3 separate regions of the Homo sapiens genome follow, and regions 2 and 3 are each linked to region 1. The links come from fine-mapping of genetic effects on gene expression. A gene starts in region 1. Each other region holds a variant in brackets. All regions are shown on one strand. Distances are from middle to middle.

Region 1 (6,179 bases):
TTCAGTCTCAAGGACTACTTCAAATGTCATCCTTCTATGGAAGTTTCTAGATCCATCCACTAGGGACCCTCTCTATGACTGTTCCTCTCCAAACTTCTAATGCAAAATCATTTTTGCCTCTCATGACACCATCATCCCCAATTTGATTCCTTGGCGTATGTCAGTTTCTATCACTGGAATGTATTACTTTAGGGTAGCAAAGATCATACTCATGATGCCTGTATCTCAGTAAGTGTTCAGTAATGTGTGTTAAATCTACGTTATTTCCTATTTAAAAATTAAGCTGCAACACTTTCAACATTCTATAGCTGCCACGTAACTATAATTTAGTTTAAAAAAACGCTTAGCGCAATTGGCTACGAAAGTTCTTTTCAGTGCATTTACATTCAATACTGTCACCTGGAAAACAAAAATTTCAAGTTCAGCTGTTAATTTGTTTAACATCACTGTCGTGCATTTTAAATCATTGTCCAAGTTTTTCTTTGTCACTGCCACCATGACAACAAATTTTATACCTACTTCTTGTCTATTAGCTGCTCCAGAAAAGCTCAGAATGACAAGAATGTTGGTTGGCTTCCCAAATATAGCTCTAAAAAGATCTCCATTTTCCTTTCATTCCAAAATTCTTTGGTGACAATAAAAAGCATGAAGATTTCGTTTTCCATACTGCCTTATCCATTAGGAGTTATTTTCAGAGTGGAAACAGCAATATGGCCTATAAAAGTCATCACATTTGGCTAAGGCACTGAAAATAGCCCAGGTTTCCCGGCACGGTTCACGGCAAAGACTATTAATATGATCCTATTGAATAATGTAGCTGTTACCCAGCCTTAAACTTGGGATGCTTTCAGGATTTAAACAGCTAAGAATGAGGATCACAAACTAAATTTAAAACATTCCACTAAAAATGATATTAAACTGAAAACTATAAATTAAGCTTGTTTCTAAGCAACAATCTAAATAGTCAAAGCTTAGTGAAAACACTCACTTTCAAAAATAGCCTACTGCTTTAGAGCTTCCATTGACTCCTTACTGCCAAATGTATACATAAAAATGCACGATATGTAAACCAATTTGAAAGTCAACAAATCTCCAAAATGCAAAGTGAATTGTTCACTAAAATAAAAAATATCAGTCAACAAGAACCCAAAATGCATAAAACGCCTCTGATTTTTAAGGAGCAATTGTGATGACACATATCACTCCTCTACACTAGCTTTCCTTTCACTTAAAAATCAGTCTATAGGTCAAGCGGCTGATATGAGAGAACCATGCCTTATTAAGTCAAAACTATTTGGAGAACTAAAATAAAAGGCCCAATTTACTACAAAAGCCATCATCAAAATTTTACTAAAAATTCAGAAATTATTACTGGTTTTTAAACTACTAGATGAAGAATCCTTATTGCATCTCGCAACCCTAAAGGATTCTATGGAAATAGCAAAGAAGGTTCACTTTCGCAGATTTTCCATGGCTCTGCCCATTAACAAGGGTGAAATTATCAAATCCCCAACTATCAGCAGTGAAAATCAGACTTGAACATTTTAAACAGAAGAGAGGGAACACTGACCTTGTTAACACAGAAATCTGCCTGGCGTCCTGGGTTTTGTTTACGATCTAACCAAACAAAACTATATATCAGCTCTACAGACCATCAGTCAGATGTTTGTGTTTGGGTTAATTGTCAGGTGATTAAAATATTGAGGGTAACAGAAACCCATTCTGAGTGGATTAAGTAAACAAATTCAACCTTTCTGGGGAACAAGAAACACACCACACACACACACACACACACACACCCTCTTTCTTTTTCGTCCTTCCCCTTCACACACACACACACACACACACACACACACCCTCTTTCTTTTTCCTCGTCCTTCCCCTTCCCACCTTTTGGGGATGAAGGCACCAAATCATTTCCACTTGCCAGAGAGCCTTGTCTCAATAGCTAGTTTCCTTACTGTGCCCCACAGAGGGGAGCTGATTCACATAAGTGGGCAGGTTTCGTTTGAAATCTTAAAGTTCTCATTTTCTATGCAAAGAATGGAAACTCAATTTTCCCAAAAGTTCAAATCAAAACTTGCCAGTTTTACAAGTGGAAATTAGCAGTCCTCCTCCCCGTTTCTCCTTCCATTGCCAGGCTCAGCTCCTCTCACCCCAAGTACCTTCCTCCACATCTCTCCTCTCCCTCTCCAGAAAGCCCTACCTCCAGAGGGTGGGAGGAAGTTAAAGCGGCCCCCGCTGTTTACGCCCGGCCCTGCCCTCTCCTGCACTGATTCTGCTCAGGTCTTGATAGGAAGAGGGGGGCGTCCACGCCCCGCTCGCTCCATCCCACCCCATCCTTCGGCGGGAGCAGCCAGATCTGGCCAAGAGTGGGAGGCGCTCCCAGATCTGCCTTTCTCTGCAGCTCCTTGCAGCTCCTGCGAAGCTGCTTCCCAAACACCGAGAACCTTTTCCACCCAGGAAATGTGGGTCCAGCCCTTCCCCAAAGTAGAGGCTGGAAACCACCAGCGAGTCTCTACACCGGAATATTAAGGGGGTGAAAGTAAGGACCAGTCAAGAATGGTAGCGCATTCGGCCTCTAGACTCCAGAGAAGGAGAACAATGTCTTGAAACCAGGTGCAGAACCTCCACCTCTCCTGAGCATCGTCTCGGGAAGAACCAATCCATCCACCCCACCCCAATCACTACCACCAAGTAATGGGGCAGCAGGCTGCTAGGACCTAAAGCGCTGGCCTCAGCGGCAGCAGCGCCCACATCTGGACACGGCCCTCTCCCAGTGGGCCTCCCGAAGGCACAGGACCAGATGCACACAATGGGCATCCCCACACCTGCTGGGCGATGGCCCACCTCCCCCAAGCTGCTCTCCCGGGTCCGCTGAGCGGTACCAGGCACCCCCGAGACACGCGCTGGCAACCACGCGCGCAGCGAGAGGTGAACAATGGGGGGTCAAATTCGCCAGGAAACACGTCCCAGCCTTCTCCCCCGGCCAGAAGCGACCGCAGCGGAGGGAGTGGGCATAGGGGTCGCACTGGACGCAGACAGGGAGCTGGGAGAACCGGGCGACCCGGGGCCGCTTCCCGTGGGGCGCGGAAGGGACAGGAGGGATCCCCAGCCAGGGTGGCCGCTCCGCTCCCCCCCGCGGCCTCCGCCGTGTGGGCATCCCGAGGAAGGGGGGCCCCGATGAAGGGGCACCGGAGAGTCCCGGGCTTACGGAACGCCCCGGGGGTGCGAAGTCGGGTCCGGCTGGGACCCCGGCGCCGCCCCCGGCCCGCGTCTACACTAGCCCCGCGCCCGCCCCGGGAACTCGGTTACCGCCGCCTCCGCCGCGGCCCCCGCCGCGTCCTCCGGGGCCCGGGACAAGTCGGGCTCGCAGCTCGCGCCGTCCGTCGCCATCTTCCTGCTCTAGCGGATCCGAATGCGAGCTCGGAGCCGCGGCTCCGGACTCAGCCGTCTCCGCGCGGGCGGCACTTAACCCGCTGCTGTCCGGGACGCGGGCGCCTGGAGCCGGGAGCCGGGAGCCGCGGCACTCCCTCCGCCCCTCGCCACCGCCCTCGCCGCTTAACCCGCTGCGCGCCGGAGCGCCCCGCCTCGGTCCCGCCCCGCGCCCCGCGTCCCGCGCCCGGTGGCGCCAGCCGCGGGCTCGTGGAGGTGCGAGAAATGGGCGCACGACCTGGCTCCGCTGCGGCCCTGCGCGGGGACTGGGGATCAAAGACCACGGAAGAGGTGAAGGCAGAAAGCGCCCGAGGAGCGTTGCATTCCGCAGAACCCCAACCAAGCCGGAGAAATCCGTGCACAGACCAGATTAAATGTCAGGCCTCCTGAATCTGAATTCTCTGAAAGATCAGGGAAAATCCTACACTTCAGCTCCCTCTATCCCACCGCGAGGAATCACACAGGGCACCCCTTTCTTCTTAAATTGCTCTTTCTTAAATTTCATTGCCGCCAGGGTGTTTTTATCCTCCCTATATATATACACACCTGGCTCTGATTTATTCTATCGTTGACTCTAGTGTTTCTCCAAAAACAATTCTCAGATGAAAACGATTTGTCTGTCCTGTTTTCTTTTAGAACGTGGCACCAGCCCCTCAGCTCCTAACTTTCTATACAATCTCCTTTTCAGGGAATGTGTAGCGGGCTGTTTTATATTCTGTGACCCCCCTAAGTCTGAGATCTCTCCTGAAGGACTAACTGAGAAGTGTTAAATGTCATAGCTTTAAAAGCTAAATGTCATGTCCTCTACTTTTGAGAGAATTTAAAAAAATTACTCCCTACGTGTGAGGACACGTGTACATATACACCAAAAACAATCAAACAAAAGCCGTATTTGTAAAAATAGATTTTATGGGAATTACACGTCTCAGAAGATTTTTCATGAGATGAGTGAATTAGGCCCAAACGCTTAATCTTCCCTTTCCACATCTAATTCAGTTCCTACCCTTTGCTGCCAATTTCCAGAATGTGAAAATCTATCACCTCACCAAGACCATATGGTACAGCCCTTCCCAAATCACCAGATCCCTAAAAATGTGTCGAATGCATAAAATCAAATTGAGACATTCAAGCTGTGTCTCAAAGACGTAAAATCAAACCACAACCAAATCTTGCACTTGAAATTTTGGAAGATGAATGACTAGAATGTTCAGTCCAAGGGTTACAGATCAAAGCTTTTTTTTTTTTTTTCCTTTTTTCTTTCTTTCTTTCTTTCTTCTTTTTTTAATGGCAGGCTCCTAATGAAAGGTTTTGACTCTTTAATTGCTCCACTTTCCAAATTAGACCCAAATATGACACAAACCAGGGCAGAGAAAATCTTTTCTGCAAAGACCCTGAAAGGGATTGATTAATAAACTGTGAAAAGTTCCCTCCCAGAAGAGAGGTCAAGAAAGAACTTTACCTAGAACTCTGGGGCTAAAAGTCAGAGGCTTAGAAATCATCTCCAGGTTATCCTGTGAGTACAGGTACTTATTTATTTATTTATTTATTTATTTATATTGGCTCTGATAGTTACTCCCTCACTTATCCCTTTAATATCCATCCCTGTTCATTATACCACTTTCCTTTATTAAGTATACTCTCTAAAACTGCTCAATATTAGAATAACTAGATTTCTTTAAGATTAAAGAAAACCACTGGACAGTAAAAGTTAGATGTCAAACTGATAGTAAAAATTTAAAGTCCAAGGGCATTCCTTGTTCTTTTCAAAATGCACTTCCACACATTGCAAGGCAATCAATTTTCTTGATTCTGATGTTGAATACTTCTCAAGCAATTAACTGGCAAACTTCTGGAAAAAATAATAATAATAAGTTTTACTCAGGGTTAAGAGTTAGAAATATGAAATGACACCATCTCTGGGAAGCAAATCCCTTTTATACATGCAGCCCAATTTTTAAAAAAAAATCACTGGGAAAAAATTAGCTTGTATTCACCTAAATACAATTAAAGCAGGATCATGTTACAAGGAAATCAGTCCTTGCCCACCCCCCCCCCCCACCGCAAACCCCCACCCATCATTTTTTGTTTGTTTTTGTGAAATGGAAAAAAAATAAATAAAACAGTGATAAAAATCACAGGACACCACATTCTCTAACCACCAAAATCCAGTACCTGGGAAGGAGAATTGACAGCATTCTGTTTCCACCTTAAAACCAGCACTGTTGAAGGTTGGCTGAGGATCTCACCTACTGCACAGAAGTGGCACACTAGGAGTTAACTTCCTCACTAGTAGCCTGGCCTGGGGCTGCTTCTCCACCAGGAGGACACTTGCTGGTTTCAATTCTCTCTTGAGAATTAGTCTCTGCTACTATTGCAAATTAACTCTTTCTAAGACTTTCTTTGCACAAAGGCAGGCTCTATTACAGTCAAAGCAAATAGATGTGAAAGGGTATTGACTTGATGGCTCCAGAAATTAAATCTTTTGAAGCCTCATTAAACAGCTAAATAATAATAATAATTAATAATAAAAATAAAAGATATCCCAGGGTTACAGTGAAAATTACTGAAAGGCAGGGTAAAAAAGGAGAAAGATAGAAGTATAAACAGGAGGAAAATAAATCCCTACAACAAAAATGAATCATGAGTCTTAATCAGTAAATTCCTTTTGGCATTAAAATGGAAGGAGTAATACTGAATATATTGCAAATAGAGAAAACTATTATTTACATCCTTTTTTTGGATCA
Region 2 (6,179 bases), 110 kb after region 1:
ACTATAGTCCCAGGGTCCTCTGGGTGTCCTCTCCCATGGGGCTTTGGTAACACTATGGCTTCCCTCTGTCCCTTTAGAGAAGAGAGTGGCTTCCTGAAAGTTGCTTCCTGGGTTGCCTTGCTGGTCCTTCTAGGTCTTATTCCCTGTGGAACAAGTTCCCTAGATTTCATTTCATCTGTTTTTGATATTCAAAATGGTTTCTGCTTCATGGCTGGATCATAACAGACACATCCTACCTATTCAGAAAAACCCAGATAATGCCGTACGCTTTTAGGAATAGAGGAAAAATAAACTATGTACCATTTTTTAAAAATGCCATCATTTGCTTGTTTAATCTATTGAATTTGAAATTAAAATTACCTCAAAAATTTTCCATTTTTTCATCTACTGTTTAATGTTTCTGATATCGCTCTCTCTTAAGAGTATGACCACACATTAAAATTTTACACCAGATGTTTTCATTACTCTGCAATAAAAACTCTTGGCATTGTATTTTTCATACATTTTAAGCTATTGTCATGGCCATTTCATCTTTGGGCCAAGCTTCTCTTGCTCATTTTGTTAATGAGTCATCTCATCTTCTTGTAAGCCAATCTCAAAGAAAAATGGCTTTTTGGACTACGTTAGGCTTTGTTTAACTTATTCAAGCCAGGGCACACTTTTGACTTAATAAATGAACCATTACTATTAGGAGATCAGCAAAATCTATTTGACGCCTACCTTCTATAGCTCTGTAATACATATTATGGGAACAGAAACATGAAGGAGCTCACACACCCTACCTGGTAGAGAGGGAGGGGTGGACCATTTGGTTTTCAAGGGATGAAGGTACAGAATGATATGACTAATAACCCTAGAAGAAAAGGCAGTCACATAGAGGAATTTAGGCTTAAATTTTGTATAAGCACATTATAACCTGAGATGAGTCACGTGAATGGACCGATACTACAAACAGGTGAGACTGACTAAGAACCACTTCATGAAAGAAGTGAGCTTTAAGCAGAAGAAAGAGACCAAGCAGCTTTAGTGGGGAAGGTGGGGTAAAATGATATTTCTAGGTAGGCAAAAAGCACACACAGAGGCTTAAAGTTCCAGAAAATAAAGAGCAAATGGATTTACCAGGCAGGAGGACACAAGAGCAGGTCAGTTGTGAAGCAGAGAGGGAAGAGAAGTAGAAACAGCAGCCTAGTGCAGAGTCCTGAATGAGTTAGGAAGAGATTTGATGCGGAAGACGAAGAGAGGATTCTGAGGGTGGGAATAAATCGCTTTCTTTTAACCTTATCTCTTTCGTGCTTTGAGACTAGAAAACCTTCTTAATGTGTTAGGGGATTTTGGGAAAAATGTCCCTAATATGTGAGAATAAAATAGAAACTTGTATATAGAAGCCTGTGTATACTGAGGATGCTCAGCTCCTTCGATGACTTATGTTTGATTTGTATGAGTTCAAATGGCCCAAAAGGGCTGAAAGCCAGGTCTCCAGACTTGAGACTGATGTTTTTCTGACCATGTCATTCTTTTTTACAAAGCGTTACTTGTCACTACTGGGAGACAGAATATTGGACTGAATAGATAACTACTCTGATCTACAATGGCATATTTTTTGGTTTATTTCTTTTTGATGAATTCTTTCACTTTTAAAAAAATTTCCTCAAGATCCTCCACACTAATATTAGTCTCAGACTCTCTGATTTACCTTCACTCTTCCACTCCTTGCTGCTGACAGAGTGCTCAGATTTGATCAAGAGGTTGCATTGTTTAAAACCTACCAATGCACTCTCCACATGCAGAGAGGTCCATGCTCTTGGTATGGCATGTGTGTAGGGTTGCCAGGTTGGCAAATAAAAAATACAGGATATCTAGCTAATTTGAATTTTAAACATTGGATTTTTAAATGTATAAGTATGTCCTGTGAAATATTTAGGACATACTTATGCTAAAAAAGTAATGTCTATCTGAAATTCAAAGTTAACTGGGCACCCTCTATTTTATCTGGCAACACTAGATAGACAGTCCATCCTTATCTTCCACCCTAGGCTCTTCTTGCACCATCCCCTCACCCCCGCTCCACCCCGGTGCCCAACATTCCAGCCATCTCCATCTGCCCCAGTTCCTGGGACCCTCCCGCATTTCGTATGTTAACTGCCACCAGCACTTTACTCACATTGTGCTCTCTGCCTGAACTAAAGTTCTTTTACTTAAATCTGGACCTTGAGGACTGTGGAACTCCAAATGGAGGACATCCAGTAAGGTGTATTCTGCCATTTCTTCTGGAAGCCCCCGCTTCTGCCAGTGGGGCAAAGGGTTCTGGGTGAAGGGGTTGCGGCTATGCTGTTGGGGAGTAGGAATCAATGTTTCAGGCCTGGTCTTTTCAGTCTGAAGGTGCTCTCCCTGTTTCAAAATAACAGAGTCTCACTTGCTCCTGAAATAACCTTCCTTACAGCTTTATAAGTACAGCCTTGACTCGGGGCCCCCAGCTCAAGGCTCACTGTCCTTCCCTAGGCTGCACAGCTCCCTTTCTGGACTGGCCATCGCCACTGTGAACCCTGCCAGGTTCATGTGGATCATCAGAGAAGCTCCTGCCTTGTGTTGACTGGGGTCCTGCTTCTACCCACACTAGAGCTCTCCAGCAAAGCAGCCTTCCCAAATTATATCTCAAATGGTGTGGATGCTTTTGTTAAACTGGTTTCCCTCATTTTAAAATAATGTCTATGTTGTAACATCGGGAAATGTGACACTTGGATAAACAACTTTTGATATAAAAGTCTCTGTATGTGTGAAATTGAAATAGGGCACATCAATTAAACTCTCAATCAACAATTAAGCATATTTTCATGTTATGAGGACTAAGAATAATGGGTTTGATCAAGCTGCTATTTGTGAGAATATGCTGACCCTGCATCTAAGAAATTCCGCTCCTGTGGGAAGAGCTTATTCCTGATATCAAATGTAATGTTTCTCTATGACAATCAGAGTGTGGGTTTCTAGCAGGATTTCCCACCGGCTGAATAAACAAATGTTACAAAGTGTTTACCAGTGTATCACTAGAAGTTTCTGGAAATTGCATTTAAAAGATCTGTCTGTGTACTTAGATTCTTCCTT[C/T]CTTAGGCAGAGAACCACACAGACAGTCCCAGGCTAATCTGCAAAGCGCACTGCAGTTGCACTAAATCCTCCCAGCAAAACATCATAAAACCCTTCCTGTTTGACTTTACACAGCATTTAAACATCAAAATAATTACCAGGAGGCTGAGGAAGCCGTGTCACAGCTCAGGTCAAGCTGTTCTCTCCCGAAGCAGAGGTACAGAGCAGAATGTGCACGGCGGCTGATTAGGGCAAGTGGGCCAGGCTTAGGGATGGGAGAAAAGGTAGGACACTGTAATGGGAGGTCAATTATCTCATGCCATCTTTAGGTACCAGCAATGAGTAACTTTATGAAGAACTACTTTATGTTCTTTAGAAGTCCTTCAGAGCTAACGTGATGCAATATAGCTGTTACTCATTCACTTCCTTAAACTTTAAACTTTTTGAGGTTTACAAATTAAATCATAATAATATAAAACAATTATGTCCAGTAACAGCCACATCTGACTGATTGGCACTGCTGTTATATAAAACTCCTTAGAGAACTCTCGGTTTGATGTTAAAATAAAAAAAGAAAAAAGCCTCGTTTTTCAAAAAGGAGGACAACTGACTCTTCAAGATGCATTTTTCTTCCTTTTAGCCCTTCATGCATGCCTCATTCTGTGCATGAAAAAACTGAATATATTTCCTAGGGTCGGTCACACTGCTTTCCACAGTTTGCAAAAATTAAGGGATATTACTGGATTAAAAACAAGCAAACACCGTGCCCATTCTGTCAAACAGCCATGCTGTTCTGAGTATGATGTGCCATGCTCAGAAAATAGGCCGTGCTCATTTTTATTGATTTATTTCAAAACTTCTCTCAGTCAAAGCGACCCTGGAGGTTTAATAACATTTTTTGCTATAGACTGCAGCAGAGACATATTAGGCAGGACTGGTGAAATATAGCCATTAACATATAAATCCAATGCCTTATCAATAACACATTTTAAAGTTGGTGACAAGACCTAAAAATCATCATTTAATACCATTACATTCAGCAGCTTTTTCATTTGACATGATGCTTTAGTGATTTAGTGCCATGACTATAAAATGTCAGGAGGATTTATTGGCGTGAATCAGATCAATTCGTATTAGAAAATAGGAACAAAAACTAAAACATCCTTTTTGCGACCTACTATATTCTGTTCTAAGCAGAGAGGATTGAAGTAATATCTAATTAGAACCCTTAATATTAGCATTAGAATTATTTTTTCTTAAATTTCATTCTAAAGCATGGAGCAATTGTGTCTAGGAGTCACGGCAGAAAATGAAAGATATTTTATCCATGGGCAGCACATTTCCAGTTCCATCAAGCTCAAGTAATAATTTTATCAATCATCATATAAAGAGTAGATTTCTAAGTGAATCTTGAATCTGTTTTAGAGGAATAAATGGGAGAGAAACACCAGGACATTGAATTATTTCAAATATAATGACAATTAATCCCTCCTGCCATATTGATGTTTGTTTCCATGGAAACATTGCTTACAAAAAATAGTTAATATTTTGTTTTGCTTGGGAAATCAAGTTTACACATTTCTTCCCGCACAATTACTATGATTAGTTATGAGAATTAGCATTGGACTTAATATCACTTCTAAGCAAGTGTGATAAATACTATGGTAGGGGTATGCCGAGAGCACAGAGGAGGATCACGTAGCTCAGACTATCCAGGAAGGCTTCTTGGAAGAGGTGATGCCTGAGTTGCCTTCAAGGACAAGAAAGAGTTAGGTGAAGAATGAAGGAAGGGATATCCAGGTGGAGGAAATAAAAGAGGAACAAGAAAATAGTAGAGAAAGAAGAATCAGATTCTGGATATTAGCGCTTTGTCAGATGAGTAGGTTGCGAAAATTTTCTCCCATTTTGTAGGTTGCCTGTTCACTCTGATGGTAGTTTCTTTTGCTGTGCAGAAGCTCTTCAGTTTAATTAGATCTCATTTGTCAATTTTGGCTTTTGTTGCCATTGCTTTTAGTGTTTTAGACATGAAGTCCTTGCCCATGCCTATGTCCTGAATGGTAATGCCTAGGTTTTCTTCTACGGTTTTTATGGTTTTAGGTCTAACATTTAAGTCTTTAATCCATCTTGAATTAATTTTTGTATAAGGTGTAAGGAAGGGATCCAGTTTCAGCTTTCTACATATGGCTAGCCAGTTTTCCCAGCAGCATTTATTAAATAGGGAAAATGAAATCAAATAAATTTACAAGAAAAAAACAAACAACCCCATCAAAAAGTGGGTGAAGGACATGAACAGACACTTCTCAAAAGAAGACATTTATGCAGCCAAAAAACACATGAAAAAATGCTCACCATCACTGGCCATCAGAGAAATGCAAATCAAAACCACTATGAGATACCATCTCACACCAATTAGAATGGCAATCTTTAAAATGTCAGGAAACAACAGGTGCTGGAGAGGATGTGGAGAAATAGGAACACTTTTACACTGTTGGTGGGACTGTAAACTAGTTCAACCATTGTGGAAGTCAGTGTGGCGATTCCTCAGGGATCTAGAACTAGAAATACCATTTGACCCAGCCATCCCATTATTGGGTATATACCCAAAGGATTATAAATCATGCTGCTATAAAGACACATGCACATGTATGTTTATTGCGGCACTATTCACAAGAGCAAAGACTTGGAACCAACCCAAATGTCCAACAATGATAGACTGGATTAAGAAAATGTGGCACATATACACCATGGAATACTATGCAGCCATAAAAAATGATGAGTTCATGTCCTTCGTAGGGACATGGATGAAACTGGAAATCATCATTCTCAGTAAACTGTTGCAAGGACAAAAAACCAAACACTGCATGTTCTCACTCATAGGTGGGAATTGAACAATGAGAACACATGGACACAGGAAGGGGAACAACACACTCTGGGGACTGTTGTGGGGTTGCGGGGAGGGGGGAGGGATAGCATTAGGAGATATACCTAATGCTAAATGACAAGTTAATGGGTGCAGCACACCAGCATGGCACATGTATACATATGTAACTAACCTGCACATTGTGCACATGTACCCTAAAACTTAAAGTACAATAATAATA
Region 3 (6,179 bases), 61 kb before region 1:
TAAAATATAATATTTTTTAAGGACAAAATGTAGCACTCCCTGTCAGAGAAACCCTTCACTGAGACGACACAGCCAATGAAGTTGGCTATAAAGGACTCCTGTATTCCCATTATACATGGGAGACACACCACTGGCTCATTTTATATTAGCCTCTCAGGACCCATAGGACAGAAACAATTTCCTTTCACTATCAGCCAGGTTGGAAATGACCCAGTCATTCAGAAACAAACAGGATGTAAGTTGATTTAAAAAAAAAAAATCAGCTAGATAATAAAATCTTTGATCCAACTAGAAGTGTTCTTTTTTTCTCCTAAAAGAGAAATGAGTTTTGTTAAAGGCAGAACAGAAGTAAAATTTTAGGAAAGTGTTTTTTATATATTCAATGACAACAAAGTGTTTTCTTAATTTTTTATAACACAATATAAAGTCCAGCAGAAATAATTTATTATGAAATAACTCATTTGACACATTACAGGCATAATTGAAATGTATCCCATCCAAGAAATACAAATGAGTTTCAGTGACATCAGCTGAAATTCATTGGCTCTTGTGTATGTGGTTTGTGGGGAGTTTTGAAAACCTCCACATATCTTAGTGGTTGTCTGCAGGGCTTTGTAGAGTCCAGAGTAAAATTCTGATTTTGCCTTACATCTATGGAAAGCCTTCTATTTTTCTTTTACTCAGTGCTTTAGTTTTCTACCATGCAACATACTGAGAAAAATGTTTCCTTTTATGCAGCACCTACACCAGAACACTAACATTTATATGTTAATGTAAAGATGAAATTTCAGGGAAAAGACACGCATGAAATGACAATATGTATCATAAATATTTATAAGTATAGTGCATTCAGGTTAACCATCAACTAGGTGTTACATATGAGATATCAGAAGTTCTCTGAAGAGGCCAAATAAAAGAAACATTTTAATTTATGCTTTAATAATAATGGTGGAGAGAACATATTAGTTTTAATTTTAATCAAACCACACAGCATGAGCTTCTAGCTTTCTCACTCTCTTTTCTAATAAAAGGCATCGATAGTCTTGGCAGCATATTAGAAGGGCAAAATTTAAATTTCTATTTACTTATTTCCTTATTATCACCACAAGTTTTCATTGAACTTTGTACTCTTTGAAGCAGATACTCAAGTGAAAGGAATATGTGTGTGATGGTGGGGGAGGGGGAGAGGAGGAGGAGGTTGGTTTAAATGAAACACATGTGAGCAGGAGGCTTGAGGTCTGCAGCTGACACAGCTATCACACCCCAGAGGTGAGTCTGACACTAACCAGGACTTTAAGATGACACATTGTGAGACTGGACATACCACGCAAACATGCATTCCATTTTCTTCATGTTATTTTCATTTCCCCCCGCCAAAATTAAGAAATAATAAAATAATTTCTAATTGCAAATAACTATTTTAGACAGAAGCTAGATACAGTAAGTTGGGATGTTACTATATGATCAAAGAGTCCTGGTTGCATCACTGGATTAACCTACCTAGCAGCTAAGCATGTTTTCTAGAAGGCACTAGGAAGTCCAAAAACATATATATAGAGAGAGATTTTAAAGAAAGTATCAAAGTAACCATTATCAGAAACATAATTTTTCTGTTATACTTCCTTTATGGTTTAGTGTTATTTTGAGTTACACTTTAAACACTAGGTTACATTGGCTTAAAGAATCTGTCAGCCTCTTGCACTTCTAAGTACTTATTGCAATCCTGTCTGAAAATATAATACTGAAGAACAAACAACTTTGGAGGTGATCTCCTCATTGGACACCATGTTGTGGGGAAAATGACCATTTGAACGCCTCAATACCTTCTTTTGTCTGCTCTCAGCAGCAGCCAGCTGTGCGGACATCCTTTCTTGCATTTTCTTGCAGTGGGCCATGACTGCTTCAAGGATGGAGAGGGGGTTGGTACAAACTGGCTTCTTCTCTTTGTCACCAGCACCTGCTTCATAGTCTCTCTGGAGTGCCAGGAACGGGTCATTTAGATTAAATCTCCCATACCGTTCCTGGATAAATACCTCCTTCCTGCGAGCCTGGAACAAAATTAGAGAAATGTATTGAAGAAAGAAATGAAAATATACAGAAAGATATTTATAAGAAGGTTTTGTGATTATACTTCCAAATGGTATTCTCAACTGCTGTGAGTAATGGCTTATGATGTCAGTGGTGAGTGAGAGGCAAATGTGACCCCCAGTCTCCACTAGCCTGGAATGCCATTCCATCTGCTTTCAAATTTTCTTCAAGAATATTGAATTTTACATTACAAATGATGCAAATATAGTTATTTCCTATGGTGCCCTACTCCTCAAGGATCAGAATTTAAGCAGCAGTCTTTTTTTACACCCCCACCCCTCCACCCCGCCCAACAGGGTCTTGCTCTGTCATCCAGGCTGGAATGCAGTGGCACAATCACAGCTCACTGCAGTCTCAACCTCCTGGGCTCAAACAATCCTCCTGCCTCAGCCTGTCTTATAGCTGGAACTATAGGTGCATGCCACCACACCCAGCTAATTTTTTTGATTTTTTAATTAAGATGGGATCTCACTTTGTTGTCCAGGCTGGTCTCAAACTCCTGGGCTCAAGTAATCCCCCAGCCTTGGCCTCCCAAAGTGCTGGGAGCCACCATGCCCCACCTAGTCTTTTCTAATTTAATGTAAAATCAGAAATATTGACAATTAAAATAATTTTTAGCTAAAGTTCAAAAATAAAATTATCTCTATATCGATAGAACTTACATTTAAAATAATATCAGGTTAAATCACGCATACAAAAAATCCCCTATAGGTTTTTTATAGCCAGAAGGAAATCACATGGATGTCTGGTAAGAAGAAAATTCTTTGTGAAATTTTTAATGTAAAAATTTTAATTAAATTAAAATTTTAATTAAATTAAAATTTTAATGTAAAAATTTTAATTAAATTAAAATTTTAATGTAAAAATTTTAATTAAATTAAAATTTTAATGTAAAAATTTTAATTAAAAAAATTAAAATTTTTAATGTAAAAATAAATAACAATATTCGTAGTTTGTAAAATTTGACCAACTACAACAGCCTTCAAAAAACTTTAAAAGGCATCTATCTCTTTCTCACTGAAGGGCATTAAAATATAGTTCACAGAATCCCAGGAAAGTATGCAACTTAATTATACTCTAAATGTCAGTCCATCAGCGACAAAGTTAATTTCACACCCACGCAATGAGGAC[C/A]AAATGCAATTTTCTATAATTAGCCTACAAAGTCATTGCATAAAAATGGAAAATAGCAGTAGAAATGTATTAAAAGCTAGCAACATTTTCCTAATTCAGGTCATTTTGGAATAGCCACTAGAATGAAAAAAAATCTATGTCACTGCCAGTAAAAAAATTAAGTTATAATAAATCAAGCTTATTTGTCCAAAACATTAAACATGTCTTCTGAAGAAATATTATTAATGCATACAGTTCCATACTTTAAAGGGAACTGAATTGGAAAACTACACTTTTCCATTTTAGGCCACTATCAGCAAGCCAACAACTAGATAAACACAAATCTAATGACAAATGGGAAAAATCTAACATTTCTTTCCTTATCATCAACTTAGATTAATAAATAAAATTTACAAAAAGTCCAGTTTCACAATTAAATTTAAGCTAGCTTTCAGAAGACCACTTTAAACTTAAAAGGTAAGGTTTATGAGCTAAAAGCACTCGGTGTTTCTAGATTCTTTAAATTCAATCATGTAATCAATACACTGAATAAGTATCACTTGAGAGATGCAATTTCAAAAGCAATTTCATTTTGCCCTTCACATTTTTCTTAATATTTATTCAGTGTAGCAGTTCTTCTCCCACCCTTGGATTAACACTTGGATAATTCTATGTTTTTTCCTAATCGTTTTAATTTAATAAAAGACCTACAGTCACTTTGAGCCAAAATAGCCTCTATTTGATTATTAGAATGTCCATCTTCATTCGGTGGTACGGCAGCTTCCTTCATCAGCTAGCATCTGCTGCAGGCTAACATTTACCACTCAGCAAAGAGGTATATATGAAAACCTCTCTCCTTTTCCCAAAACCTTCTCCTCCTCTTTCTAAGCTGTTTTAGTCACCTCTGGGTTGGAAAGGACTGGAGGTAGATGATACAGGAGAGGTGAAGGGAGCAGGAATGTCGTACCGGACTGGTTCAGGTGGTCAGCTAGCTTTACCAACCCAGTGTGAAGAATATTTAAAGTCTATTCTTTTCCCATGAAGTGCCTGGTGATTTCTTAGAGGAACACCCCCTTTTGCACTGCTGGGACCCCTTCATCTACAGTTTCTTCAATGTAGGCCATAAATGTAGGACAAACTACATAATCTGCAGGACCCACTGCAAAATGAAGACATGGGCTTTTTGTTCAAAATTATTAAGCATTTCAATATGGCAACAGCACAGCATTTAACCAGACAAGGGGCCCTTCTAAATGCATGGCCTTTGCGACTGTACAGGTTGCACACCCATGAAGCCAAGCCCTGCATACTCTCATTAGCATTTGGAATCCACCTTTTGACAACTGAGGTCCCATGTTCTCTCCAGACTTCCCTATTGAACAGGACCTGAATCAATCTCATTCCTACCATTTCAAGACCATGGCCCAACATGGTCTACAGGAAACACTCATGGATCTTTATCTAAACAAAAGCTGGGAGTCTCTACAATAAGATCTCCGCGTCTATCTCTCCTTCACGTCTGCAGAATGACTGCTTGTTCAGCCCCACCTCCACTGAGCCCACCAAGATCTGCAGGAAAAACCTATTGTCATTCAAAAGTCTCTCTGAACCCCTTTTCTCTTCAGATGAAGGGAGAAGCAACTGGATGAGGCAGGACTCACAGCACAATTCTCTGCAGAGAAATGCTCTCTGATAGAAATCTTTCTTTAATCTCCAAAAACTACATTATTTTATACCCTCAATGTGGATGAAAGGTTTAAAAGTCAACACTAGCTTTTAAATATTTCTTACAATAATTTGCATCTTGTTCCTCACTTTGGTATCTGATATTTATTATGATGAGTTATCTGCTGAAACTGACATTTTAACAACTCATTGTAATTACCTGGTGTCTACTCACCCACACAACATATTTTATGATGTACAGTACTTGTAACACTAATCAAGCAATTTCTTAACACACAGGTTATTAAGTCTGAGTAAACTTTTTGATAAGTGGGTTAAAAATTAAAATTAATTTTTTGTATAATATGAGAGGTAAATACATATATCACAGACCTAGTTCCAGTTTTACCCAACAGATTTTATGGTCAAAAAGCATTTAATTCTTTTTTTTTTTCTTACTGGTGTGAAATAGTTTTTTACATGTGTATTTTTGTTGTGTTTTTTTATTTTAAAATTACTAGTTTTAACTGAGTCATATTGTGACACTGTTAAATGCAGACGAATTTTTTTCTGCTGAAAATGTTGTATAACAATACATGTACAGGTTCATAAACATAAAACTGCCTATTTATTTATTTTGAGATAGGGTCTTGCTCTGCCACCCAGGCTGGAGTGCAGTGGCGTGATCACGGCTCACTGTAGCCTTGAACTCTCAGGCTTTAGTGATCTTCCCACACCTCAGCTTCCCGAGTAGCTGAGACTATAGGCACGTGCCACTACGCCCAGCTAATTTTTAAATTTTTGGTAGAGATGAAGTCTCACTATGTTGCTCAGGCTGATCTTGAACTCCTAAGCTCAAGCAATCCTCCTGCCTCAGCCTCACAAAGTACTGGGATTACAGGAGTGAGCCTCCGTGACAGCCTAAAACCACCAATTTATTTGCTTCACAAATATGGACTGACATTTAGCCTTTACGAAGTATAAAATATGTACATTAGATTCCTTTAAGGGTAAAAACAGTGGCTTTGTATTTGTTGCTAACTAGCTATGCAACTGTGTTGCTGATATCTTTAGTTGTCAAAATGAGAGAAATGAAGCAGTATTATTTGTTGCTTAAGACACCTTGAGTTTAGACAAAAAACCTGATCTCATTCTTTCATTTTTAAGTCCCTAAAAGCATGAAAACCAGGCAAAAATGAATGTCAAAGACCACGTGTTCTTCATTAACATCCTAAACTCATATTTATTATTTTCAGAGATGCCAGGTAATAATGTTGTTCTATGACCACATATGCATTTATTTGTGTATATTACAT

Alleles and levels. Positions count from the first base shown, and alleles are read on the strand shown. Sizes are in standard deviations (SD) of each study's normalised expression.
For the expression in tibial nerve of the gene that starts at base 3,422 in region 1, C is the high allele of the variant in region 2 and T is the other (small effect, 0.30 SD a copy in GTEx).
In carriers of allele A in region 3, the expression in thyroid of the gene that starts at base 3,422 in region 1 tends to be higher than with C alone (small effect, 0.34 SD a copy in GTEx).

The links. PIP is the estimated chance that this variant, and not a neighbour inherited with it, causes the effect. A credible set is the group of variants that fine-mapping cannot tell apart.
Region 2: its variant is the best candidate, but not a certain one, in a credible set for the expression of CTTNBP2 in tibial nerve (GTEx, PIP 0.55).
Region 3: its variant is the best candidate, but not a certain one, in a credible set for the expression of CTTNBP2 in thyroid (GTEx, PIP 0.87).

What each region holds. Positions count from the first base shown.
Region 1 is chr7:117,870,020-117,876,198 of GRCh38, forward strand. CTTNBP2 (cortactin binding protein 2) reads right to left here and starts at 3,422. Exons shown (of 23, transcript NM_033427.3): 1 at 3,316-3,422. The coding sequence starts at 3,396.
Region 2 is chr7:117,979,377-117,985,555 of GRCh38, forward strand. No RefSeq gene overlaps it. Among named protein-coding and RNA genes, the nearest start is that of CTTNBP2, 110 kb to the left of the region's middle. The variant C/T (reference allele first, on the strand shown) is at 3,100.
Region 3 is chr7:117,808,942-117,815,120 of GRCh38, forward strand. It overlaps CTTNBP2 (cortactin binding protein 2), which reads right to left. Exons shown (of 23, transcript NM_033427.3): 3 at 1,824-2,048. Among named protein-coding and RNA genes, the nearest start is that of CTTNBP2, 61 kb to the right of the region's middle. RefSeq lists enhancers at 973-1,721, 1,722-2,468. The variant C/A (reference allele first, on the strand shown) is at 3,220.